Linked DNA regions of Homo sapiens. The protein of the gene in region 4 interacts with the protein of the main gene of each other region in a pairwise test. Each region holds a gene or a part of one and is shown on either strand. Other genes may lie near its edges. The genes, in order: TRIM63, ATXN3, TRIM55 and USP13.

What was found.
Region 1: the proteins of USP13 (region 4) and TRIM63 interact in a two-hybrid assay, tested with the Homo sapiens proteins (2 studies listed by BioGRID and IntAct).
Region 2: the proteins of USP13 (region 4) and ATXN3 interact in binary tests that used the Homo sapiens proteins (3 or more experiments, as listed by UniProt).
Region 3: the proteins of USP13 (region 4) and TRIM55 interact in a two-hybrid assay, tested with the Homo sapiens proteins (2 studies listed by BioGRID and IntAct).

What each region holds. Positions count from the first base shown.
Region 1 is NC_000001.11:26,050,799-26,057,683, reverse strand, and holds the end of TRIM63 (E3 ubiquitin-protein ligase TRIM63), read left to right. Parts: intron 1-33; coding exon 34-56; intron 57-356; coding exon 357-481; intron 482-3,719; coding exon 3,720-3,791; intron 3,792-5,800; coding exon 5,801-5,811; 3' UTR 5,812-6,383; downstream 6,384-6,885. UniProt on the Homo sapiens protein: E3 ubiquitin ligase. Mediates the ubiquitination and subsequent proteasomal degradation of CKM, GMEB1 and HIBADH.
Region 2 is NC_000014.9:92,096,583-92,103,582, reverse strand, and holds part of ATXN3 (ataxin-3 reference isoform), read left to right. Parts: intron 1-6,744; coding exon 6,745-6,909; intron 6,910-7,000. UniProt on the Homo sapiens protein: Deubiquitinating enzyme involved in protein homeostasis maintenance, transcription, cytoskeleton regulation, myogenesis and degradation of misfolded chaperone substrates.
Region 3 is NC_000008.11:66,130,129-66,137,128, forward strand, and holds part of TRIM55 (tripartite motif-containing protein 55), read left to right. Parts: intron 1-4,861; coding exon 4,862-5,027; intron 5,028-6,966; coding exon 6,967-7,000. UniProt on the Homo sapiens protein: E3 ubiquitin ligase that plays an important role in regulating cardiac development and contractility, muscle growth, metabolism, and fiber-type differentiation.
Region 4 is NC_000003.12:179,656,015-179,663,069, forward strand, and holds part of USP13 (ubiquitin carboxyl-terminal hydrolase 13), read left to right. Parts: intron 1-7,055. UniProt on the Homo sapiens protein: Deubiquitinase that mediates deubiquitination of target proteins such as BECN1, MITF, SKP2 and USP10 and is involved in various processes such as autophagy, endoplasmic reticulum-associated degradation (ERAD), cell cycle progression or DNA damage response.

The DNA.
Region 1 (6,885 bases), on a different chromosome or scaffold from region 4:
GGTCCTAATCCTTTGTTCTCTCTCCCCCTGCAGACTGCCAAGCAACTCATCAAAAGGTCAGTGTCTTCCTAGAGGCTATGATCCAAGCACCTAGTTCCCACCAGGACCTCTGTCCAGGAAGCCTCATCCTGGGCATTAGGCCTGCTGGGAGGGTCTCACTCTAGGCTGGCTTCCCTGACCCTTTGCATCCCTGACTTTTTGGACCACTCCTTGTGCTTGAGGTTGGAGAGGAAATACTCCATCCCTCCAGGGGAGCCTCTGGGTAGAAGGCCTGGGCGTGGCAAAGCATGTGCCCTCTCTTCCCTGCACTGAGCCCCAGAGACCTCATCCTGCCTCTCTTTCTGTCTCCCCTGCAGCATTGTGGAAGCTTCCAAGGGCTGCCAGCTGGGGAAGACAGAGCAGGGCTTTGAGAACATGGACTTCTTTACTTTGGATTTAGAGCACATAGCAGACGCCCTGAGAGCCATTGACTTTGGGACAGGTAAAGGAGGTGGTGATGCCACTTGTCTATTTGCCTGCCTGACCCCTGGAAACCAGCATCCCTCCAACTGAGCCCGATGGGGAGGCAGATACACTAATAAAGATCCCCAAATATCAATCAAACTCATATAGCCAACTTCTGGCCGGCTGTGGTGGCTCATGCCTGTAATCCCAGCACTTTGGGAGGCCAAGGTGGGCGGATCACTTGAGGTCAGGAGTTTGAGACCAGCCTGACCAACGTGGTGAAACCTCATCTCTACTAAAAATACAAAAATTAGCCAGGCGTGATGGCATGTGCCTGTAATTCCAGCTACTTGGGAAGCTGAGGCAGGAGAATCACTTGAATCCAGGAGGTAGAGGTTGCAGTGAGCCGAGATTGTGCCACTGCACTCCAGCCTGGGCAAAAGAGCCAGCCAAACTCCATCTCAAAAAAAAAAAAAAAAAAATTCATATAGTCGATTTCTAGATGAGCCCAGAGCCTAGCACAGTGCCTGGTGCAGAATTCCTGCTTCATAAATTACATATGGATCCATGGCAGGGAGGCCTCTTGGGGCAGTAGAAATAATATGCCCTCTGGAATCAGACAGTCCTGAGTTTAAATCCTGGTTCTGTCATTTGTTTATCTGTGTGACCTTTGGCAAGCCCCCTTCTGCCTGAGTTTTATTTTCTAATTTAAAAAGTCAGGTTAGAAGTGAGCCCTCTAATAATGACCAACTCATGGTGCTGTTGCAAAAAATCAGATATCAATGCAGAAAGGTCCTGTAGAGCCCTAAAGATGTACTAGTTATTGCCTAAAGGTAGTCTTAGCTTCAGTTTCTTAATGCTATCACCTATGATACCCAGGCACCTTAATTGATCAACATCATGTCCTCATTTCTGTTTATAATTACTCTTCCATAGAGTGCCTATAATAATTGTAACAATGCAACCGTAACAATAATAAGGGTGAAAATAACAAAGGAAATGAAGAAACTGAATGGAAGCAAATATGTTAATTTGCTAAAGGTCACACAGCTAAAAGGGAAACACAGCTAAAAGGCAACAGAGAAAGAGAGGGCAGATCCCACATTGCTGACTGTTGCGTTGGTCTGAGAGGTGGTGCTCCAATGACCAGCTGAGGTTGGGGGACAAGGGGATGATGAAGGAACAAGGAAGAACTGTAAATGGCTGGCGTGAGAAAGAGAAGAGCTTCTTGGCACCTCCTGTGTCGCTCTCCTACAAACCTTCAGTAGCTGGTGCTAAGTCTGTTTTCAGAGCCCCAGATATACCCCATTCATAGGTAAGGACAAAATACATCCCAAAGCAGAGACACCAATGGCCTTGGGGACATCCACTGCTGTAGTGAGCTGCTCCACTGTCAGCTTCCCTAAGCTAAGATATTCAAGAGTGGGTCAGCCAGGCACAGTGACTCACGTCTGTAATCTCAGCACTTTGGGGGTCCAAGGCAGGTGGATCACCTGAGGTCAGGAGTTCCAGACCAGCCTGACCAACACGGAGAAACCCCGTCTCTACTAAAAATACAAAATTAGCTGGGCATGGTGGTGCATGCCTGTAATCCCAGCTAACTCGGGAGGCTGAAGCAGCAGAATTGCTTGAATCCGGGAGGAGGAGGTTGCAGTGAGCTGTGATCACGCCATTGCACTCCAGCCTGGGCAACAGGAGTGAAACTCCATCTCAAAAAAAAAAAAAAAAGAAAGAAATAGATATTCAAGAGTGGGTCATACGGTGTGAACATAACATTGTGAAGTCCTGCACTGGCCTTCCTAATCTCCCTGAGCCTCAGTTTCTCCACAAGTAAAATGAGGAGAGTACCAACAGTCACCAGTTACTGAATATTCTGTATGTCCTAGGCGCTAAGCCCTTAACATAAGTTTTATCATTTAACACAACTTCATGGGATAGGTTCTGTTACCATCTCTATTTTGTAGTTGAGGGAACTTAAAGCTCAGAGAGGGTAAGCCACTTGTTCAAGGCCACACAGCTGGCAAGTAGCCTGTGCAGATTCTACTGAGGGCCATTTGGCTTGCAAAACTCTTGTGAGGATTTTATAAGACGATGCAGATTCAACACTGAGCACACTACTTGGCACATAGTAAGTACTCAGCAACTGCTATTAAATGTAGTCATTGTGACAATGATTAAACAACAGAACTCCCTGGGTTATACTCTGATATCAGTTACTTGGCTGGAATTTTGGTTGTCATTTTGGAGATACTATTTTTTTTTTTTTTTTTTGAGACGGAGTTTTGCTCTTGTCGCCCAGGTTGGAGTGCAATGGTGTGATCTCAGCTCACTGCAACGTTTGCCTCCTGGGTTCAAGAGATTCTCCTGCCTCAGCCTCCCAAGTAGCTGGGATTACAGGTGCATGCCACCACACCCAGCTAATTTTTTGTATTTTTAGTAGAGACAGGGTTTTACCATGTTGGCCAGGCAGGTCTTGAACTCCTGACCTCAGGTGATCTGACCGCCTCAGCCTCCCAAAGTGCTGGGATTACAGGTGTGAGCGACCAAGCCTGGCCTGAAGATACTCTTGACAAATGTTCTGATTCTGTGGTGACCCCTTCAGGGCCCCAAAAGGTTAAGGAGGTAGCTTGGGAGAGGAGCGGGGAAGGGAGATGTTCCCTGTTAAAGCTTGACGGTGACATCTCAGGATAAAAAAGTGGGGACATGAGTTGCAGCTCAGTCACTGTCCCTCTGGTGCTCAGCTTCAGGGAGCAGAGGTGGCTCCAGAAGTGCTTCCCCATCATGTCCACCCCTCCCCTCCACAGGCTAAGGAATGAGGAAAATGGGACAGTGGCTGCTGAACAAGCAGATCTCATAGGCTAAGTAGCTTCCTTCAAGACAAGGACTCTGATCCCTGAGGATCGAGGAGGTTTTTCCTCCTCAGGCAATGTTTATCTGCCTACCCGAGAGATGTGCAGAAGCACAGAGTGCGCTTCCTCAGAGTCCCCTCTCTGGTCACAGGCGAGCAGGTGATAGAAGCTGCTGTTGCTGGAGCAAGGAAGTGACTTGAGCCCAGCTCCCTGGGACGGAGTGCGGGGGATTGCAGGAGCAGGGCCTCTGTGCAGCGTGGGTCTGGCAAGCCCATCCCCTCCCAGACCACTGCCGCCGCTGTGTGGCCGTTTGACCCGACTGGGCACAGGAAGGGGTTTAGACCGTGCTCTCTCTTGCCTGGTTCCTCTTCAAGTAGCTCCTCAAGGAACCGGCCCCATCCTAACACAAATGTTTTTTTGTCACAGATGAGGAAGAGGAAGAATTCATTGAAGAAGAAGATCAGGAAGAGGAAGAGTCCACAGAAGGGAAGGAAGAAGGTAAGAAATTCATCTACCTCCATTCCTTCGTTCCTTCATTCATTCCACAACAATCTGAGGTGCCTACTGTATGTGAAGCACTGTGTTAGACATTGGCAATGACGCTCAGAACTGTCCCCAGCACGTGCTTTAACCCTACTGAGGGTAAAGTCCTGTTCTCTTTACCCTTAGAAAAGAAAAAAACCCCAAACTATTCATAATAAAATGCTCCCATTTCACATCTAAATGATCTTCTTAAATGGAAAGCAATATGGCACAGCAGAGGGAAAAGACAGGGGCTCATGAGCTAGGCTGGGCCCATTGAGGTGTTTTGTTTGGCCAGCACTGTGTTTAAATTAAAACAAACAAACAAACAAACAAAACTACTTGCTGGACAGGCACGGTGGCTCGAGCCTGTAATCCCAGCACTTGGGGAGGCCAAGGCCAGCCTGGCCAACATGGTGAAACCCTGTCTCTACTAAACATACAAAAAATTAGCTGAATTTGGTGGCAGGCGCCTGTAGTACCAGCTACTTAGGAGGCTGAGGCAGGAGAATCGCTTGAACCTGGGAGGTGGAGGTTGCAGTGAGCCGAGATCGTGCCACTGCACTCCAGCCTGGGTGACAAGAGTGAGACTCCATCTCAAAAAATAAATAAATAAATACTTGCTGGCTGGGTGTGGTGGTACGTGCCTATAATCCCAGCACTTTGGGAGGCTGAGGCGGGAGGATTGCTTGAGACCTGGAGTTTGGGACCAGCCTGGTCAACAGCAAGTCCTCGTCTTTACAAAAATAATTTAAAAATTAGCCAGGCATGGTGGTACATATCTGTAGTCCTAGCTACTCGGAAGGCTGAGGCTGGAGGATTGCTTGAGCCCAAGAGGTAGAGGCTGCAGTGAGCTATGATTGCGCCACTGCACTCTTGCCTTGGCAACAGAGGACACTACACTGTCTCTTAAAAGAAAAAATTAATTGCTAACATTTTTAAAATTAGGTTTTTTTTAAGGGTTAAGAAAAAGGAGATTTGAACTAAGAATCTGCATTTTCACCTTGTGAAAGTTTAGAAAAAGCAAACAATGCTGGACTTGAACTTCCTTGTAGTCCCAGAGTGCTGGCTCTGGGCAGTGGCTCTCCCCTTTAAAGGGGACACGCTGGCATGGTGGCTCACGCCTGTAATCCTAGCACTTTGGGAGGCCGAGGCAGGCGGATCACCTGAGGTCAGGAGTTTGACACCATCCTGGCCAACATGGTGAAACCCCGTCTCTACTAAAAATACAAAAATTAGCCAGGCGTGGTGACGGGCACCTGTAATCCCAGCTACTTGGGAGGCTGAGGCAGGAGAATCGCTAGAACCCCAGGGGGGCGGAGCTTGCAGTGAGCCGAGATCACGCCACTTCACTCCAGCCTGGGCAAAAGAGTGAAACTCCATCTCAAAAAAAAACAAAGAAAAGAAAAGAAAAATGGGACATGCCCTTGCCAGTTTGCCCAGCCCCACCACCACCAGTCCCGCTTGCTTCACTCATTCATGTTATCTGCTGGCTCCTTGTAGGCATCTGAGTTTGCCAGCCTGGCAGAGTTTGATTAGGAGCCTGGGTTCTGAATCACAGCAGCTCACAATTTCTCTGAGTCTTGGGCTACTCATCTGTGTATGGGGGTCTAACAGTACTGACGTCAAAAGGTTGTAGTGGGAAGTGAATAAGATAATCGTTTAGCACGGTGTCTGATGCATAGGAAGGACGTTTGCTAATTAGCACATGCTTGCAAATGTTATTTTTCAAACCACAGGTACTGAAACTAAATTCCAATCCAGTTGAAAACTATAGGTAGTCTTTTGGAGTTTTGTACTGATGTACAATCCATAATATTTGGGCAGCTAAATTCTATTTTGGTTTTAAAAGGAAGAGACCGGGAGGAATTGGAGTTTGATGTTTTATTCAAACTCCTGTTTGAATAAACAGTAGCTTGGTAAGCCTTGGATCCTCCTGAGTCCCTGTCTCACCCCTTGCCTCTGTATCTTTTTCTTCATTTCAGGACACCAGTAAGGAGCTGGATGAATGAGAGGCCCCCAGATGCAGAGAGACTGGAGAGGGTGGGGAGGGGCCCAGCGGCCTTGGTGACAGGCCCAGGGTGGGAGGGGTCGGGGCCCCTGGAGGGGCAATGGGGAGGTGATGTCTTCTCTCTGCTCAGAGAGCAGGGACTAGGGTAGGACCCTCACCGCTGCGTCCAGCAGACACTGAACCAGAATTGGAAACGTGCTTGAAACAATCACACAGGACACTTTTCTACATTGGTGCAAAATGGAATATTTTGTACATTTTTAAAATGTGATTTTTGTATATACTTGTATATGTATGCCAATTTGGTGCTTTTTGTAAAGGAACTTTTGTATAATAATGCCTGGTCGTTGGGTGACCTGCGATTGTCAGAAAGAGGGGAAGGAAGCCAGGTTGATACAGCTGCCCACTTCCTTTCCTGAGCAGGAGGATGGGGTAGCACTCACAGGGACGATGTGCTGTATTTCAGTGCCTATCCCAGACATACGGGGTGGTAACTGAGTTTGTGTTATATGTTGTTTTAATAAATGCACAATGCTCTCTTCCTGTTCTTCAAAGGAGCCGGGGTTTCATTCAGCCTTTTTTTCCTGGAGATGAGGGTTGAGTGTGAATGAACAGGACCCCTGGTAGGAGGCAATGGCAGGGCTAGGCTTAGGTCCCAGTAAAGGAGTTCTCGACACCACCATTTCCCAATGTGGACTCCATGGAAAGCCAGCCCTGAGCTGGTCCTTCAAGAACAGGTTCAATGTGTTGTTGCTCTGGTTCTCCAGAAAACAGAGCCTGAGGCAAAATTTAAATGCTTTAGTTGCAGGTTATAGGGACTTCCCCGTGCTCACTGAAGGCTCACTGAAGGCTCACTGAAAATCATCAAGAAGAGGCAGATTAAGGCTGGGCAGGTGCAGTGGTTCATGCCTGTAATCCCAGCACTTTGGGAGGACAAGGAGGGCAGATCATCTGAGGTCAGGAGTTCCAGACCAGCCCGACCAACATGGTGAAGCCCCGTCTCTACTAAAAATACAAAATTAGTTGGGCGTGGTGGCGCATGCCTGCAATCCTAGCTAC
Region 2 (7,000 bases), on a different chromosome or scaffold from region 4:
GTTAGCACATGCCTGTAGACTTGGGAGGCTGAGGTGGGAGGATTGCATGAGTCTGGGAGGTCGAGGCTGTAGTGAGCCATGATCGCACCACTGCACTCCAGCCTAGGGGACAGAGCAAGATCCTGTCTCAAAAGAAAAAAATGTATATATTTGAATGGATAAAGAGATGGCTTTGAGTTTCTGAGATATATATGGTGCTGTTTATCTAAAGTAAACAAGTTTTCTGTAAATATTTTAAGGCTTTGCAGGCCAGCTGTAGTCTCTGTCACACATTCTTATTTGTGCATGTTTTTCCCAACCATGTAAAAATGTAAAGTGCATTCTTAGCTACTGGGGCAGGTTGAATTTGGCCCATGGGCTAGAGTTTGCCAACCCCTAACTTAAACCTTTGTACTAACTTTATGACCACTACTGGATTTTTGTTGTTGTTTGTTTTAGTTCTGGTGCCTGCTTTGTTTTTTTTTTTTTTTTTAATCCTCTTGCTGATGTTTCTTGGTGCAGTTACTGTGCCATTTGTATTGGTGCTTTTAATGTAATGCAAACTGGTAATAATATCTAAACTTGCTGGGGTTGTACATAAAATTATTGAAAAGATTGAAAAGATGCTGAGCATTGACTCTGTGGCATTCATTATGCCCTTTTGTGATTGCTGGATTTTAGCCATCTTTAGGACATTTGAGCTTTAGGAGAAGCCAAATTCTGTATAAATGACTTGAAGTGCTAATAGCACAGGTTTTGAAACCTCTGCCTGGGTTTGAGTCTCAGCTCTGCCTTTTACTACCTGTGTGATCCTGAGCAAGTTACTTAGTATCCCTGTCCTCTAGTTTCCTCCTCTGTAGTGTGGGGATAATAACATAGACATAACCTGAGAGTTAGAGTGTAGAGAAGGCTCCCTGGCAGATAGTGCTGTAGAAGTACTGGCCATTGCCATTACTCAGGTGCTTGTGTTTGCTGAACCTCATAGTAAGGGCTCGGAGAGCACTAAGAGGAGGTGAGAAATGCTGCTAGATTGACAGCTTGTCCCCAGATAGCCCATTCCCGAGAGCACCTTAGGTTTATACCTGATTTGTGTTGTAGTTAGTAGTGTCTCTGGTAATTTGAACTAGTTTCAGGTTGGTCTTGAAAACCTGGGGAGGTTGGGGGTAAATGATTTGGTAGCAGTTCTCTTTTGTGATTTTATACATTATCTTTGTAGAACTGCAGTTTGCTAATTCTCTGAGCCCAACACAATGAAGTCTGGGCCTAAAATCATAGAATTTCTTTTATTTTTTTTTTTGTTTTTAATTTATTTATTCCCTCCCTCCCTCCTTTCTTCCTTTCTTCCTTTTCTTTCTTTCTTTCCTTCCTTCCTTCCTTCTTTCTTTTCTTTCTTTCTTTTCTTTCTTTGGAGTCTCACTCTGTCACCAGGCTGGAGTGCAGTGGCACGAACTTTCTTCAGAGTCTCACTTTGTCACCAGGCTGGAGTGCAGTGGCGCGAACTCAGCTCACTGCAACCTCCGTCTCCTGAGTTCAAGAGATTCTCCTGCCTCAGCCTCCCGAGTAGCTGGGACTATAGGCATGTGCCACCATGCCCAGCTAATTTTCTTATTTTTAGTAGAGACGAGGTTTCACCATGTTGGCCAGGATGGTCTTGATCTCTTGACCTCGTGATCCACCTGCCTCAGCCTCCCAAAGTGCGGGGATTACAGGCGTGAGCTACCACGCCCAGCCTATTTTTTATTTTTTGAGGCAGAGTCTCACTCTGTCACCCAGGCTGGAGTGCAGTGGTGCAATCTCAGCTCACTGCAACCTCCGCCTCCTGGGTTCAGGTGATTCTCCTGCCTTAGCCTCCTGAGCACCTGGGACTACAGGCGCCTGCCACCACACCTGGCTAATTCTTATATTTTTAGTAGAGGCGGGGTTTCACCATGTTGGCCAGGCTGGTCTCGAACTCCTGATCTCAAGTGATCAACCTGCCTTGGCCTCCCAAAGTGCTGGAATTACAGCCATGAGCCACCATGCCCAGCCAAATCATGAGATTTCAATACCGCTGAACTTTGATTATGGCAAAGTGAACTTCTGCTTTGATTAAAGCTTGATGAGAGAGGTGGCTGGGGATAGTTTGAGATAAGGGCAAGGCAGGAAAATGCATAATCTTACGTGGGCTCATTGTCATTGTACAATTCTTTTGGTCCATGTGGAATTTGATCCGTCCTATGACTTAAGTTATGTTTATTTTTGTTTTTATTTTTATTTATTTTGTGTCTTTTTGAGAGACATGATGTTGCTCTGTCACCTGGGCCAGAATACAGTGGCACAATCTTAGCTCCGTGTAGCCTTGAACTCCTGGGCTCAAGTGATCCTCCCACCTCAGCCCCTCAAACAGTTGAGATTATAGTATGAACCACTGTGCCTAGCCTTAAGTGATTTTTAAATTTGTACTGAACAGTTTGTCCTTTCCTTCCATTAAATCATATTAGAAGTACAGAACTTGATATTTCCTGTAGCAATACAGTTTTTCTTTGATGAAGTTTGATTTCAAGTACTTATTTTTCATAATTTAAAGCTATTTTTTATAGAGAGAATTTTAATCAAATATTTGGATGTCACTATTGCTATATATGGTATTAAGTATGGTGACCATAGTTTGTAAACTCCAAACTGACAGCAAGACAGGAAATTTGTGTTAGCAAAGGCTTTTTTCTTACTGTTTGAATTTTTTAAAAATTAGATACAATACAGAGAGGAGCACACAAATCATTAAGAGTACAGCTCAGCGAATTTTCACACAGTGAACATGTGTAAACAGCAAGTAACAAAAGATTTACCTGCATCCTATAACCTCCCATTATTCCCTTTTCTAGGTACTGTCTCTCCACTGCATTCCCACCAAATATAACCACTATGCTGAATTCTGACATCATAAATGAGTTTTGCCTGATTTTGAGCTTTTGTGACTGGAAGTGTACAGTGTATATACCCTTTCGATTCTGTCCTCTTTAGTTTACCATTGTTTGAGAAATTTATCCATACTGTTCCAGAATTAACTACTGTTAATTATTGTTAATTAACTACTGTTGTAGTTAATTCATCCTCATTGTTATCTAGTATTCTTTTGTGAGTAAACACAATTTCCATTCTACTGTGATCCCAGCTATCCATTTGGGTCGTTTCCAGTTTGGGGTCCATTACAAATAGTAATGCTATCTGTAATGCTATTTTGTATTACTACAAATAGTAATGCTATTTGTGGCACAAAAATACTGCTTTTGTGAACATTCTTATACATGTCTTTTGATGAATGTATGTTTGCATTGCTGTTGTTTACATTATGTACCTAGTAATGGAATTGCTAGATCATAGGAGATGTATATATTAAGCTTTAGTGGATGCATTACATAATTATTAGTTATTATTGGTTATACCAATTTATCCTCTCATCAGTAGTATACAACAGTTTCTGTATCTCTAATCTCCAACATTTTAGCCATTTTAGAGTTTGTGTACTAACACATTGTGGTTTTAATTTACATTTCCCTGATGACTAATAAAGTTGAGTACCTCTTTTGTGTTCTTTATAGCCATTTGACTGTCTTGTGAAGTGCTTGTTTGTCTTGCCTATTTTTCTTTTCTTTCTTTCTTTTTCTTCCTTCCTTCCTTTCTTTCTTTCTTCTTTCTTTCCTTCCTTCTTTTCTTTCTTTCTGTCTTTCTTTCTTGTCTTTCTTGTCTTTCTGTCTTTCTTGGTCTTGCCCTGTCACCCATGCTGGAGTGCAGTGGTGCAGTCTCAGCTTACTGTAGCCTCGACCTTTTTGGGGCTCAAGTTATCCTCCTTTCTCAGCCTCCCAAGAAGCTGGACTACAAGCACGCACCACCATGCTCAGTTAATTTTTTATTTTTTGTAGAAATGGGGTTTCACCATGTTGTCCAGGCTGGTCTCAAACTTCTGGGCTCAAGTAATCCTCCTGCCTTGGCCTCCCAAAATGCTGGGATTACAGGCATGAGCCACCGCAGCCAGCCTTGGCTATTTTTCAAAAGGATATAAGTAGAACATCTGTATATCCCTTCAATTTGCATATTATTCAGTAAGAGTTGCACTCTGGTAGTAGAAATATATAAGGAGGAGAAAGAAGTGGAAACAAAAAGTCTATTCTCATGAGAAGACTTGGGGGATAGTGTTCTCTCTAGCTCCAAGCTACTTATTCCTTACGAAAAGTTGAAGATAAACTTATCTCAGACTGAGGCTGTCTCAATGTTGTCTTCCTATTCCATTATACACATATAACCCATATTTTTTTCACCAGCTGAATTTTGCTCCTAGAAAATTGATTCATCAGGAAAAATATCCGTCTTGCAAGGTGGTTCTCTTTAGAGTCTGCTGTGTGACATAGCTCAGGACAAATTGTGTGATGTCAGATAGGTTGGGTTAAGGAATAGACCTTATTGGGGAAAGAGAGAACTTGGAGGGCCAAGGTTAGCAGGAGAAGGAAATGTTCTCTCATCTGCCGTCAATTCAGGGAGGGGCAAACCTGGTGTCTGTGTTCACAGGGAGGGATCCATCCATCTGTGATTCTCCCTTCTTATCAGGTAGCATGGGAAAGCTACACTGTTGCGGGGAGGAGGGTCACACGCAGGCTACTTAGTACCAGGCACCCTGGACTTGGATTCAGGTTGCCAGTTGTGTGAGAAACTGCCCAGCACCTGAAGGCCCTGAACCCATGAGAAGTTGTACCTACCTCCCATGAGGAGGAATCCTGTCATCCCATGGGAGCTGAGCTTGGGTGCAGTCCCTCTTGCTGGCTTGTCCAGGAGTGAGCTCCAGGGTTGTTTGGGACAGTTCTGCTCATTGCTTTACACTGTGTATACATTATCTGTAGAGTTCCATGAAGAGAACTTCAGCACTGTAACTGCAAGTTTTAACATGGAACAGAATTTTTCTCACCTGTATTAATTCTTAAGATTTGAAGTTCTATCAACAAGCATTTAGATTGTGTGGAGATTTTTTTATTTTTATTTTTGGAGACAGAGTCTTGCTCTGTTACCCAGACTGGAGTGGCAGTGGCATGGTCTTGGCTCACTGCAGGCTCTACTTCCTGGGTTCAAGCGATTCTCATGCCTCAGTGTCCTGATTAGCTAGGACTACAGGTACACACCACCATGCTGGCTAATTTTTGTATTTTTAGTAGAGACGAGGTTTCACCGTATTGGTCAGGCTGGTCTCGAACTCCCAGCCTCAAGCAGTCCACCCACCTCGGCCTCCCAAACTGCTGGGATTACAGGTGTGAGCCACCATGCTTGACTGACATCATCATGTTAAAAGAATAAATGTTCTAGGGAGCTGGGCACAGTGTCATGTTTCTGTAGTTCTAGCTGCTCGGGAGGCTGAGGCAGGAAGATCCCTTGAGCCCTGGAGTTCAAGTCCAGCCTGGGCAACATAGTGAGATCTCTTTTTTTAAATAAATAAATAACTGTTCTAGGGACTAAAATTTCCTTTCACCATTAGTAATTTACTGTAGAATCTCCAAGAATGAACTTATTTTAGGTACTGAAAATGAGGGAGACTAAATGTTTTATACAGTAGTTTTTAGTAAAATATGAGATTTGATGCATTTGATAGATGATGTTTGTTTAAAATAATTCTTAAATTTTTGATCATGTAATTATAGTTTCATTAATGGTAGATTTGTAAAATAAATGTTACCAAATGAAAATGCATGTACCTATGTTAATTATCCTTATCTAAAGCTGAAAGTTCAGTTCAACTATGTTAAAACATAGTAGGGGCCTGGCAGGGTGGCTCTTGCCTGTAATCCCAGAACTTAGGGAGGCCAAGGTGGGCAGATCACGAGGTCAGGAGATCGAGACCATCCTGGCTAACATTGTGAAACCGTATCGCTACTAAAAATACAAAAAATTAGCCGGGCATGGCGGTGGGCACCTGTAGTCGCAGCTACTTGGTAGGCTGAGGCAGGAGAATGGCGTGAACTCAGGAGGCAGAGCTTACAGTGAGCCGAGATCATGCCACTGCACTCCAGGCTGGGTGACAGAGCAAGACTCCATCTCAAAAAAAAAAAAAAAGTTGGCCAGGTGTGGCGGCTCACACCTGTAATCCCAGCACTTTTGGAGGCCGAGGCAGGCGGATCACAAGATCAGGAGTTTGAGACCAGCCTGGCTAACAGAGTGAAACCCTGTATATACTAAAAATACAAAAATTAGCCAGGCATGGTGGTGCATGCCTGTAGTCCCAGCTACTTGAGAGGCTGAGGCAGGAGAATCACTTGAACCCGGGAGGCGGAGGTTGTGGTAAGCTGAGATTGCTCCACTGCACTCCAGCCTGGACAACAGAGCAAGACTCTGTCTCAAAAAAAAAAAAAATTAATGATTAAATTATTTAGGGGAGCCGGGCGCAGTGGCTCACGCCTGTAATCCCAGCACTTTGGGAGGCCAAGGCGGGCGGATCACGAGGTCAGGAGATCAAGACCATCCTGGCTAACACAGGATGAAACCCCGTCTCTACTAAAAATACAAAAATTTAGCCGGGCGTGGTGGCGGGTGCCTGTAGTACCAGCTACTCGGGAGGCTGAGGCAGGAGAATGGCATGAACCCGGGTGGCGGAGCTTGCAGTGAGCCAAGATAGCGCCACTGCACTCCGGCCTGGGTGAAAGAGTGAGACTCCGTCTCAAAAAAAAAAAAAAATTATTTAGGGGAAGATACTATACAATTCTGTTTAACAAGTCACATTTTAATTTTTTCTTTTGGAAATATTAGCAAGAAGGCTCACTTTGTGCTCAACATTGCCTGAATAACTTATTGCAAGGAGAATATTTTAGCCCTGTGGAATTATCCTCAATTGCACATCAGCTGGATGAGGAGGAGAGGATGAGAATGGCAGAAGGAGGAGTTACTAGTGAAGATTATCGCACGTTTTTACAGGTACTGATTTTAAACTCACTAAGTCACATTTCTTTTTTTTTTTTTTTTTTGAGACGGAGTCTCGCCCTGTTGCCCATGCTGGAGTGCAATG
Region 3 (7,000 bases), on a different chromosome or scaffold from region 4:
AGAGATGTTAAAACTTGCAGTATTGGTAAAACTACAAAACACATCTTCACCTTAGCTATGAAGTTGGCTTGGTGCAGCTGCCAAAAATAGTACCCAGGCCTGGGAAGTAAATTGCGTAAAAGCAATGAACCAAATTTCCAACAATAAAGCTCATAGTTGAGTGAACTAGGGATGCTTTTGTGATTTTCTGTGATTTTGTTATGCTGTTTTTTCTTGAACTTGAGACTTTCCTGTGGGACAATTTTACTTGGTAGCAAAACCACAAGTTGCACAGAGCACTTGGCCACATGTCTGGGAGGAAACGCAGTTGTCCCCTGGGGGCAGACAGCCTTACTAGACCAGAATCTTGAGCCTCAGGGTACATTAGGTAACACTGGAATGACCTTGGATATACAGAATGAAAAGAGTTCAGCTGTGGCTATTGGAAGGGGGTCGGGGGGGGTGACCAATCACAGACTGGGATGTTGTCAGTCAACTCTGACCTCCTCCAGAAAGGCTGGAGACTGTAAGTCTCCACAAAACCTAGCATTCTTTTTTTTTTTTTTTTTTTGAGATGGAGTTTTGCTTTGTTTCCCAGGCTGGAGTGCAGTGGCGTGATCTTGGCTCACTACAAGCTCTGCCTCCCAGGTTCACGCCATTCTCCTGTCTCAGCCTCCCAAGTAGCTGGGACTACAGGCACCTGCCACCACGCCCAGCTAATTTTTTTGTATTTTTAGTAGAGATGGGGTTTCACCGTGTTAGCCAGGATAGTCTCGATCTCCTGACCTCTTGATCCACCCGCCTCGGCTTCCCAAAGTGCTAGGATTACAGGCATGAGCCACTGCGCCCAGCCAAAACTTGGCATTCTTATCCAGAATTCTGCATGGTGCCAGACTAGCCACAGTTGGGAGTGGGAGATGGTAAGAGAAGGTACTATTTTGGCTAATATTAATAATTAATATAATAATAATTAACTTTAAAATATAACAAGTAAAACTACTATGTGCTGCATGCCAGACACTGTTCAGGGTGCCTAACACATGAATCATGTGCAATTCTTTAATTCTCACAATAATCCGGTGAGGTGTTGATTATTATAATTACTGCTACCCTATTAAAGCTTTTAGTGCCTTAAAGTAATCAACATACACAACTTTTAGAATTCATTACTACTGGGCCTCTGAAGAGAAATGCAGTCTCCACTCTGTTCTCTCTTTACCCACCCCCAAGCCTCATTCCCCAGAGTCAACCACTTTTAATTCTTTTAGCTGTTTTTCTGCTATTTATCACCAATGACATGTGCATACTACTGGTATGCTCCTATTCTTTGATTTTTCAATTTTAGACATTTTCTATTGACTTTCCACTGTAGACAATTAGGACTGAGCCCTCACATGGCTGGGCTTTACCTCTACTTGGGAATTCTTTTACTCTCCCCCTGGGTTGAACCCCTTGCTCCCTGGATTCCAGGTCTCCTTGTTTGGTGGCTTACTCTCTTATTTCTATGGAGCACATCCTCAAGTAATCTCTTAAAACATGCACAAAGTCCTCCTCTTTTCAGCCTCTCCCAGTCTGTCACCGCCTACTTCCACCTTCAGGACTACTGGCTCCTGCAGTTCCAGAGCCTTTCCAGGGTTCCATAGCTCAAGTCAGCTTGCTTATTGTAAGCTTCTCACTGCAGGAATGTAACAGAACTAAGATGCAACTCAAGTAGGTCATGTCCCTTCATCCAGATGTTCCTAATTTCCAACATTTGGTTGACATCTCTCATCTGCTGTCATCTGTGCTCACTTTTTGTCCTTATTGATTTATGCCCTTTTATTTCCTTATCCTCATTTCACTGGGATTTCAGCAGAATAAATACATAAATACATACATACATATATAAATACATAAATAAATACATGCTTGTGTTCATTCTGCCACATTTAATTAGAAGACCCTTAATCTGATATTTGATACGAGTAAAAACTGAGACCAGAAGAGGTTAAGTAACTTGTCTAAGGCCACATAGCCACTACATGGAGAAGCTGAGCTGAAATGAAGCTTTAAGATCAGTTTGGGCAGGCACAGTGGCTCACGCCTATAATCCCAGCACTTTGGGAGGCTGAGGTGGACAGATCACCTGAGGTCAGGAGTTTGAGACCAGCCTGACCAACATGGTGAAACTCCATCTGTACTAAAAATACAAAAAAATTAGCCAGGTGTGGTGGCAGGCACCTGTAATCCCAGCAACTTGGGAGACTGAGGCAAGAGAAATGCTTGAACCCGGGAAGGTGGAGGTTGCGGTGAGCTGAGATTGAGCCATTGCACTCCAGCCTGGGCGACAAGCAAAACTCCATCTCAAAAAAAATATCAGTTTGACTACAAAGTTACTACTTCAATTGCCTCACCAAGACCAGATGCCCACTCCTCAGGAAACTCTAGGGTGGCCCCGGGAACCTCAGAGACCAGAGACAGCAGGCTACATACTTCTCAGTCTAGCCTACACTGAACGGTGAGGGGCCACAGCCAACATTTAGCACTGGGCCCTGACCACAGCTGTGAGCTTGGCTGCTCTCACCTCATAAACATGTATTTATGTCATTCTTTTACATGCCAAATCGGTCCCAAGTCAGTTACATGTTTGAAGTTGTACAGAGGTTTCATTATATGCTCATCTATGAGTAAGTGGTGCCTCTGGGGCTGGGCTACAACCTAAATAAGAAAAACCCAATGAGGAATATGGGAAATTGTTCTCAGTGTATACAGCACCATGAAAAAAATAAATAAATTGAATCACAAACAAAACTAAATGTAGAGCCTTATGGCTGTTTTCACATTTTCAATATTTGCATATACTGCATAGACCTGTGCTCTATGACGCAATCTCTGGTCACAGCTGTTGATATCAGAACAGCATGTGGGACCCAAGCTGCCCACTCTTGCTTAGCCCACATTAATAATAAGGTGGAGATACCTACGAGGGAAGGGTTTAGAGGGGAAGAAGCCTTTGACCAGGCAGAGACCAACTTGCCAGTCCCAACCCCAGAGGGCACTGTCATTTATTAAAGGAGTAATCAGGATGTGGTCTGGTCTCTTCCTCTGCCACTCAGGAGTGCCAGGTGATCCCAGGCTTTCCCCATATTTGCCATGCCTTCTCCAGCTGGGTGGTGTTACACTAGAGCACAGGGAATACTGTCCATTTAATAGGTCAAATTCCCTTTCATTGTCTCACTCATTTGTGCAACAAATATTTATGGAGCCACTGCCTCTGTGCAAGGCACTGTTCCGAGTACTGGAGATGCAGCAAAAAAAAAAAAAGACTCATCATGGCCCCTGCCCTTATGGAGCTGATATTCTAGTGGAGGAAACAGACAGACCTGAGAGGAGGATAATTTTCTCAATTGTGGAGTTGACTTCCTTATTTGAGTTCCAAATAATGTGGTCAAATCAGAAGGTCATAGACTTCATGGAAAGCATATTGCTGCAAGACCAGACAGAAATTCCTTTTGCAACAGTCAGATTCTAAAATTTTGAAACTGGAAGTCCGTGCAATTTTCTTACAAGACCCAGGGCTTCTCCCAATGTTTAGCCTAATCTCAAGTAATTGACGTCCACCTAGCAACTTATAAAGGAACATTAGCGTCTTACAGAGGCACATCAGCACGTTCTCTGCCTTTCTCTGAGTTCTGGGTCTGCAGCTACAAGATACCACACATCAAAAAAGATGGGTTTCAAACACTTGTATTCATGATTTACAGTAGGAAGTGCATTTTACATTGTGACCACTTACATATATGGACGGATATATATACACACACATATGTATATACACACATACACAAACACACACACACACACAAACACACATATACTTTTGTTTCAGTCACATATATACACACGTACACCTGAAACAAAAGTTTCGAACAGCAATACTTATTTTTACTACATGTAATTCACAGTATTTGCTATTCCATTCTATTTTTATTTTAACAATGCAGATCATAGCTCCCTAAATTGATTTCATGGCTCATAAAAACCTGTAGTTTTTAAAAATTGGATCTGTATAGCAACAAAACAAAATGTAGTCCCAAATCTAAGATGTTGCTAAATAACTATGTGTTTGGAAATTTGAAGAAAGCTTCTGGATTTGGATTTGAATTTTTTGAATACTTCTGAAAACTATTAGCAGCCTCAGTCATTAGATAGGATATATCAGAATTCCTGGGGTTTATATAAGGAGGTACACCCACACTTGCGTCTCATACACATTTGCATCCAACCAGTACTTGAATTAATAATCAGAAGATTTTGGTTCCATGTGAGCCACACCTATCCTCATTTCTTCAGGTGAAAAGGGTCTTTCCTGGGGCCAGAGGCTGGAGGGGGGCGATCTAGCTACTCCTAAAAGCTGGTGCAAACTCGACTTTTAGTTCATCAACAATTTCCTGTTCTTGGTCCATAATGGGAAAGTGTCCCTTGAGAAACTTGTGAGCATGTAGACACAGTGCTGGACCACGTTCCTGATGGCTCACCAGGGTTCGATATTCTACTTTCAGGAATTTCACTACCAGATTCTGAAACCTTAAATAACTTAAAATTGGCCATGTGGAAATACACCATGGAAATGGGCAAATGGTACAAATCAGGATCTCCACGTCTCTGTCCCTACCCCAAGCAGGTTGTTAGAGATTTGCCAGCACTCCCCTGCTACACCTGCAGGGAAGCTGAATTTGGTGGGCTCTGAGCATGTGAAAGGGCCCCTGGGGGTCTTCTGGAATAGAATTGCTGGGCATACAGGGAAGAGAAGGAATTTGCAAGGCAGAGCAACATCAGCTCTGCCTTGATGAGATTGCCCCAGTGAGAGCTGATGGACATTTATCTGCCTACCTCCTCCCAGGCCAGAAAAGAAATCCGACCAGCCCATGTGCGAGGAACATGAAGAGGAGCGCATCAACATCTACTGTCTGAACTGCGAAGTACCCACCTGCTCTCTGTGCAAGGTGTTTGGTGCACACAAAGACTGCCAGGTGGCTCCCCTCACTCATGTGTTCCAGAGACAGAAGGTAACAGAGCTGCTCCCTCCCTCCCGCAACCCCTCCCCATCCCCACACCTTAGGGCCTTCCTGGGGCCAGTGTGAGTGGCTCCCTGCGGTGGAGGAGGAAGCCCAAGCCACGCAGGGCCATGGGACACTGGAGGGCACACAAGGTCTGCAGGAAGACATGTGCACAGTTGTGCACGAGGCACACACCAAATTCCCTGGACGGTGGGGGACCAGGCGAGACAGGGCAGGGGTGCCCAGGTTCAGGAAGTGGTGCAGAACGGCACGATCCCTGTTTTTGTGCCCTTTGGAGGTTGCTGATGATGAGCAATGTTAGGGGACCCAGCAAAAGCTCAAACTGCTCCAGCTTATGTGAAGTTTAGACTACAGATAAGAAAAGGACAGCTTTTTACCCTAGTCACAGAATACTTTCCTTCATCCACCCATGAAAGATTTCTTTGGCCCTCCTCAATGCCTTTTATCCCGCACTCTTAGTGAGGGAGGGTTACACTGATGACATGCAGTTACAGAACAGCTTTAAAACACAGACTTGTGCTGGCCCTCCTGTCACCAGGGCCAGTTGCCTAAAAACCCCTCTGAGTGTGGTGTCTCCCCCTGACCCCAGGGCCTCAGCCATGGCCCCCTAATTCTGAGCAGACAGAAAGACAGTGTCTCCCTCTACACATTACCAACCTGCCAACCTGGTTTCATTCATGAGCAGGTCAGAATTTATCCATCTGGTACAGATAAAAGTGGAGTTGGGTACTCCAATAGGTGCAGCCACTCCAGGCACCGAGAACTTGAGCAGTTCCACTACTCAGTTTCTTTCATTTAGAATCATCAGTTCCACATTTGATCAGTGTTTTACTGTGAAGATCAGTGCTGAAATCAAATTTGGAAGCAAAACTCTTGGGCAACACCAATTACAGCTAGTGGCCACTAAGTCCTAAAGAAACAGATTTTGCAAATTATCCACAACATTTGTTTATTTTTGAATCCAGTTACAATTTATTCCCCCTTCTCTTCTGCCCACCTCCCCCAAAGCATAGCATAATAGAACTGGATGGTAGCTGTTTCACACTCCTTCCTTCAGAGCCTGGAGACTCATGTGAGATGGACAGAAGAACAGACTGGTGGGACCCTCACCCTTGCTCCTGTTTGGCCAAAGCAGCTTCACCTCCATATTAGCTTTCACTTGAAGAAGGTTCTGCAGCTTTAAAATATTTTATAATCACTGTTCTGGTCCAATCTTCTCCTTCTAAATGTGAGAAAATTAGGGTCAAAATTGAATATATGTTTTGCCCAACATCACAGAGAAGTTGGGGGTAGAGTTGGACCAAGCGCATGGGTCTCCCAAGTGCCCCTCCAGTGCTCCTGGTGGCTCCATCAGCCAGTCTTGGGAAGGGGGTAAATAGGAACAATAGAATCTCTTCCTAAGTCAAAAGAGCAAAGGAATTTAAAAGTTGACATTTCTCCCCTAGAACTAGTTCTTTGTTTCAGTGTGAAGTTTGTAATGACTTAGTCTAATGTGTGAGTGTTTGTGTCTGTATACACTATATTCTTATGCCCATAATAAGTATTTGTTGAATAAATGAGTATTTACTATACACATTTCCCAAGTAAAATTGACCCTTAGTTCCACTAGGCAAATAATTCCATTTGGGTCCCTGAAGTCACATATTGGTCTCCATGCTATTTATAAACAATACTTAGAATTCTTTAGCTTGAACATGTTGATCTTAATATTAAGACTGATGAAAACTGTGAAACCTTTCCCTGCACAAATGGATTCATACACAAAGGTTTGCTTGCAATATCAGAAGGTCCACAGGCCTCCCTGTTAGTCCTTAGGGGTTGCATGGATCCTAAATTAAGAACCTGTAAAGACAATATTATGACCAATTCACAGTCGGGGTGGCTAGGAAACCCCTAAGATATTGGGTTCATGTTTTCTCTTCATTAGTCTGAGCTCAGTGATGGCATCGCCATCCTCGTGG
Region 4 (7,055 bases):
TGTCTTAGGGAAAAGGCCAAAACCAGCTGAGTGGAAAAAAGAAATCATCCCTGCATTGGTTACTGTTGAAAAAGGTTATGTACAAAGATGGCTAGAAAATAAGGGAGATCAACATTCAAGGCCAGGGAAATTATATGTGCAAAGAAGATACAACGTGTGAATATTTCCCACTAATTTGCCTGTAATGTATTTGGAATAAAAAGATACATTTGGCAAGTAGCAAGAAGTGAGGTAGAACCAAGTAGAGAGTAGATGATGGGGGCCTTGAATCTGGAAAACATTTGATCTTGATTTTATATGGTCAGTTATGGAAAGCTATTCTTGGTCATGTGATTTAAAGTGGTGTTGGAGGAAGATTGTGAATCAACAAATTCACAGTGTACCTACCATGTCTAAGGCACTGTCTGTAGACCTTTGCCATTCTTCACCTTTGTGGGATATGAGTAGTGTATTAGTATCTCTCTTCCCTTCTTCCCACCTCCTAGGGCTTAACACATAGCAGATGCTCAATAACAGCTATTTTGGGATGAGTGAGAATTTGTTTTTCACCTACCTCTTTGATTTCATCCTGGACCCACCCTCCCACCTTGACGTGTAGGTTCACCTCTCCATGGTTTGGTTCATTGTGCAAGGTCTGTAATGCACCTTCCCAGTGGAGCTTCTTTTCAAGACTGAATTCAAGTGGTTCTTGCTCTATGAATCATTTCCATATTGCCTTCCACCAGACCCCATAAGCATTCCTGTCTAACCCCCAGTGACATGTTCACGTGCTTGTCTCTGCCTTTGAGTGCGACCTTCCTGGAGAGTGGGGACTTTGTGTTATTTCCAGCAGCTGGTCTAGCATCTGGTATATATACCAGGAGCTCAGTGAATGCTTTGGAAATGTATGAATTCCATGGAGTTACAGGCCCTGCACATGGTGAGGATAAAACATATGGGAAATACTGAGAAAGGAATCATGGGGGATTACCACATAGAATGAGGTGATTTCATTGATTGTTGGGGACAGTCGTGAAGGAGAGAGCCCAGACTGGCAGTGTTTGAATCCTATCTCCGTCACTCAGTGTGTAACTTCTCTGAGCCCCAGTTTCTCCATCTGTAAAATGGAGACAGTAACAACCTATCTCAAAAGGTTATTTTGTGGATTAAATAAATTAATACATAAAGTGTGTCTGGCCAATTAGTAATCACATACACATTTGCTTTAAAAAAGGAGGAAAGGCCGGGGCGCGGTGGCTAACGCCTGTAATCCCACCACTTTGGGAGGCCGAGGCAGGTGGATCACCTGAGGTCAGGAGTTTGACAGGAGGTGGAGGTTGCAGTGAGCCAGGATTGCACCACTGCACTCCAGCCTGGGCAACAGAGTGAGACTCCGTCTCAAAAAAATAAAATAAAATAAAAAAATTAAAAAGGAGGAAATAGAGAAGAATGGAAGGAAGAAAGAAGAAAGAAAAATAGTCAGTCATGGCCGGGTGCTGTGGCTCCCACCTGTAATTCCAGCACTTTGGGAGGCTGAGGTGGACAGATCACAACATCAAGAGATCGAGACCATCCTGGCCAACGTGGTGAAACCCTGTCTCTACTAAAAAAAATACAAAAATCATCTGGGTGTGGTGGCACGCACCTGTAGTCCCAGCTACTCGGGAGGCTGAGGCAGGAGAATCGCTTGAACCTGGGAGGCAGAGGTTGCAGTAAGCCGAGATTGCGTCACTGCACTCCAGCCTGGTGACAGAGGGGAATTCCGTCTCAAAAAAAAAAAAAAAAAAAAAAAAGAAAGAAAAAGAGTTAATCACAAGTTGTAAGCCCAAGAGTCTGGTTGTCAGGGGTTGTGTAGGAAGTTTTGTGTGCTTAAGTGGAGGAGGGATGTCTTGGTTCACACTTCTGCTCATAAGCCTCCCTGGACCAGCATGGAAATCTCCTCTCATCTCTTTGGTTGTTGAGCTCCTCATTTCTATGAGTGTACTTTGTCCTGTGTCTCTTCAGTTTCCAGGTGGTCAGTTCCAGTGAGGCGAGTCTCTGGCTTGTCCATGTGTAAGACTCATTTCCTTTTCTTTCTCAGCCTCCTGAGTAGCTGGGATTACAGGTGCCCACCACCACGCCTGGCTAATTTTTTGTATTTTTAGTAGAGACGGGGTTTCACTATGTTGGCCAGGCTGGTCCTGAACTCCTGACCTCGTGATCCGCCCACCTTGGCCTCCCAAAGTGCTGTGATTACAGGCGGGAGCCACTGCACCTGGCCAACTGATTTCCTTTTCTAAGACCACCTTCCTCTTGTGATCATTTGTCTGGGCTCTCTCTCAACCTTCATCTTCTGCTTCAGACTTCATCCTTTCCTCTGAATGCCTGCATTACGTAGAGTCTGTGTCATGCCGCACAGCGGTTCTAGTCTGTCCTCATAGTTGGCTCTCTTGTGCTAATTCTGCCCCCCTCCCCACCTGCATTGTAAGTGGAGCTGTTTATGCCTTGCCTTAGCTTGGGTCAACTGAAAACGGGGAGGCTTAGACAAGGCAGTTTATTTTGGAAAGTTATCCCAGGGAACAGAAGTGGAATTATGAGCAAGAGAATAGTGACAAAGAGAAAGAAGGAAAGCCAGTCCAAGAGTGAGTTATGGAGCTGGCTTCCACAGTGGGCAGCTAGAGCTAAACCTCACTGGGGACTCCTTGGGTAACTGCAGAATGTGCCTCAGAATTGTCCACTTGAGATGGAGCTGGGGAGAGTACTGTATTTATCCACTGGCTCCCATCCCCCATTGGTCAAGGTTTGTTCTAGGGGTGGAAAAGCCCTCGCTCTTCCAAGTCTGTATTTATAGGCACTAAGCCTGCAAATGGGAAGTATTTTGACAAGCTGAGCAGGACCAGCAGCAGCTGAGAAGCAAGAGGTCCTCAGTGCAGCTGAGGCTAAGACTGTTGGGCCACACCTGCTGTGACAATCAGCTGCATACAGTGGCTGAACCAAAAAGGTGGCCGGAGGGGATATGATACTCAGCATAAATGGTTGCCCCTTACTCCCACCTCTTCTTCCCTTCTCGCATTGGGACTGTTTTTTAAGAAGGAGCTTTTTTCCCATTTTTGAAAGCTCTGAGATGGCTCGGTGATATTGAGATGTCACTGTTGGTTCTTTGTCTTCCTGGGAGTCTTTGGAAACTCTGATGGACAGGGGCCATCAGGTGGGAGTGGCTGGTTTAGATATCCACCAGGAAAGACTTTGAGATCTCCATCTACTTGTGGGAACACTTCATGTTAGGGGCTCAGTGAATCCTCTGTCTTTCTGTCCTTTCTTCCACAAGTATTTAGTGGTGTGCCTGGTATTCTCTCAGGCATTGCCAGTAATAATAATGACATCTCACATGTATATAGAGCAGTTTTCAAAGCGTGCTCCCTGAACCAGCAGCACTAGCATGTCTTGGGAACTGCTAATTCTGTTTCAGAAGATCTGGGGGTGGGGGTGTAGCAGTCTGTGTGTTAATAAGCTCTTTGCATGATTCTGAGACATGCCAAAGTTTGAGACCGAGTGATAGGGCACTTACTAGGTGCCATGCATCATTCCAAGCCTTCTAATTATTGCATATATTATTATACCTACATGAACTCATTTAATCATCACAACAACCCTATGTTATATACTATTACCATTTTGCAGATCAGGAAACTCAAGTACAAAGATCACCCAGAGAGTAAGTAGGAGAGCTGGGATGTGAATCTGAATTGTCTGACTCTAGAATCTGTTTTTAAAAAACCATTTTGGCTGGGCGCGGTGGCTCACACCTGTAATCCCAGCACTTTGGGAGGCTGAGGTGGGTGGATCACCTTATGAGGTCAGGAGTTCGAGACCAGCCTGGCCAACATGGTGAAACCCCGTCTCTACTAAAAATACAAAAATTAGCCGGGCTGGGTAGCGGGCGCCTGTAGTCCCAGCTACTCAGGAGGCTGAGGCAGGGAGAATCGCTTGAACCTGGGAGGCAGAGGTTGCAGTGAGCCAAGATCCCGCTATTCCACTCCAGCCTGGGCGACAGAGCGAGACTCTGTCTCAAAAAACAAACAAACAAAACATTTTAACTCGATTTAATTGTACAATTCAGTGGCATTAAATTACATTCGCATGGAAACATTTTAACTCGTTTTAATTGTACAATTCAGTGGCATTAAATTACATTCGCATTGTTGTGTAACTATCACTATGCATTGTTGTGTGAATATCACTACTGTCGATCTCCAGTTTTTCATCCTTCCAAACTGAAACTCTGTATCCATTTGACAATAAACCCCCACTTCTCCCTTCTCCTAGCCCCTTGTAATGTCCATTCAACTTTCTGTCTCTATGAATTTGCTTATTCTAGGCACTTTATATAAGTGGAATCACACAGTATTTGTCCTTTCGTGTCTGGCTTATTTCATTTAGCATAATGTTATCAAGGTTCAGTGTTGTAGCATGCATCAGAATTTCCTTCCTTCTTAAGGCTGAATAATATTCCATCATATATATGTACATGTATTACATTTTATTTGTCCATTCACCTGTTAATGGACATCGGGTTGTTTCTACCTTTTGACTGTTGTGAATAAAGCTGCTTCAGTTGTTGGTGTACAAGTATTTGTTTGAGTCCCTGTAGATTCTCTGCATTTTACCATTGTACTATGCACGTTGCCTTGCAGTCAATGAGACTTCCCATCATAATGTTTACTTGTAGGGAGAAAAAAAAGTTAATTTAGGATCTCTGTGGAAAACTCTTCCTCCTGATGGATAAACTGATACAAGGTAGTAAAGCAAAATTTCAGAGCAGACAGACTTTTTTCCACTTTGAAGATATAAACTTAAAGTAAATCTTATTAGTTTCACATGTCAAAAGCTTCCTTCCAAAAGCAACTAGCTGAAAAGTTGTTCTCGAGCAGTGATTCTCAAGCTTTTTGACCTCTTTATACTCTTTAACTATTTTTGAGAACCGCAAAAAGCTTTTGTGTGATTTCTGTTGCTATTTACCATATTAGAAGTTAAAACTGAGAAAAATTTAAAACAATTTGAACAATTACATTCTATTGGCTTTTGAAATGATGTCATTGCATGTCACGTAGCCTTGGGAAAATGCCACTGTGTGCTATGAGAGAATGAGAGAGAGAAAGGCAAGTAACTTCATGTTATGAAAATAGTTTTGACCTCCCAAATTACTTAAAGACTCTGGGGTGTCAGAGGGTTACCAGGCCTTACTTTGGAAACCAAAGTTCTAGAGTTTAGGCAAGAAGATATAACCACTTATTCCAGTCACTTACCTCACCTGAAATGTAGCCTATGGGTTCACATTAAATTATTATCTTAATTTTAGCTCAACCATAGATGTCATATGTTGCATGCACATTCTTTTTGAAGCAAATTAAAATTTAGAGAGTTTGATTGACACTTTTTGAAAAAATTAGAGCTACTTGAGCTGGGAATTTACTATTTCATAGATAGGATTTTTTTTTTTTTATTCTCTGAACTGTGAGTTTCATTGTAGGGTGACCTGGCTGGGCTGTTTCTTTGGGGAAGCTTAAATGTTAGTGTGATTTTTTTTTCTTCCTTTGGCTACCAGGTAGGAGACTATTCTAATCTCTTGCCTGGAAAATACAGGCCTGTCTACCAGTATTTAGGGAACTGAGTGGGAGTGGAGGGTGAAGGTGGTCTCAGCATCTGGGTATTCGATACCAGCTGGATATTGCCTGTAGGTTCTCAGCTGTGTCCCTGCTTTGCTAAGCTTCTCCCATCATTGCAGGGGCTGGCTCCTGGACATTGCATTTCCCAGAGTCCCTTGGTGGCAAGATTCTGATACTGATTTTTCCAGTAAGAGATTTAGAAGGCAAAAGAGAAGGAGAAGCCACTTTGCTATTGCAACTGTGGCACCTGGTCGATGTGAGGTTTTCCTAGCAGCATCTGAGTGTCCTTCTGGGACACAGTTACCTCAGTGGTGGGGATTCTGACGTCATCTGTGCAGTTTCTTGTGACGCTTGTACATCCTGAGTTCCTGAACATAGGCAGTGATTTCTCTGACTGTGGCTCTCATGCCCTTTCCATGATTTTTTAAGCTTTTAATTTCCTGTATCAAATCTCTTCCTGCCTGTAATACCTGAATAGCATCTATTTTCTGACCAAATCTGGACTGATACACATACATTCTCTTAGTCCCCATGTTCGTGATGGTGCCTCTATTCTTAACTAAGCTCATTCTTCCCCAGCGCTGAAACCTTTGTTTTTGTCTGCTTTAGAGAATCACTCTCTAGTTCTTTGCCAGGAGAGGGAGGGGCCTCTTGGAGTGGAGGTGAGGTTTGGGGCTCTGACGGCTACATAGAAAACCTTTCTCTTTATTTTAGCTCCTACTTCACCCCATCTTCCAGAGTTATCTTGAATTGCCAGTTCTGGAGTCTTTTGGGCATTCTGGGGTGAAGATCAGGTTGGATCTTGGCTTTCCCTGCTGCTGGCCTAGGATTCAGCTCTGTTGCCATCTTAGTCTTTTAGCATTCATTTACCTGCCGTCCAGCTTTCCAGACTTTAGTGCTATAGCTTATGTCTTGAAAAAATCCCTTTGCTGTCCTTTGATTGGGGTTTCAGAAAGGAGTGAAATGGATGTCTTTGTGTCATTTGCCATGTGTACCCTAAAATCCTGCTTTTCTAAAATCATAATCAAGAAGTCACTTGCTGTCCCTTTTGGACAGTAGTTCATTACCTTTAAAGTTGTACCATTTTTAGAGCTTTGGAATGTGAGAGATGATGCTGATCCTGTCAGAAAGACTTTTTGGAAAAGTTCATGTTCTCTGCTCATTTTGGATCTGGACATCTGTGCAACTCTGAATTCTCTTTTTCCTCCCCTGCATTCCTCTCCCTATGGACTGGAGCTCAGTTAAAGGAGCGGCCATCCATTTTAGTGCCCCAGATTGAGAGGTGTATGGTATCATCCATTCTACCTCCCTCTCTCTCTTTTTATTTTTTAAGTTGTGATAAAATACATATAACATAAACTTTACCATCTTAACCATTTTAAAATGTACAGTTCAGTGGCATTGGAGTACATTCACACTGTTTTGCAGTTA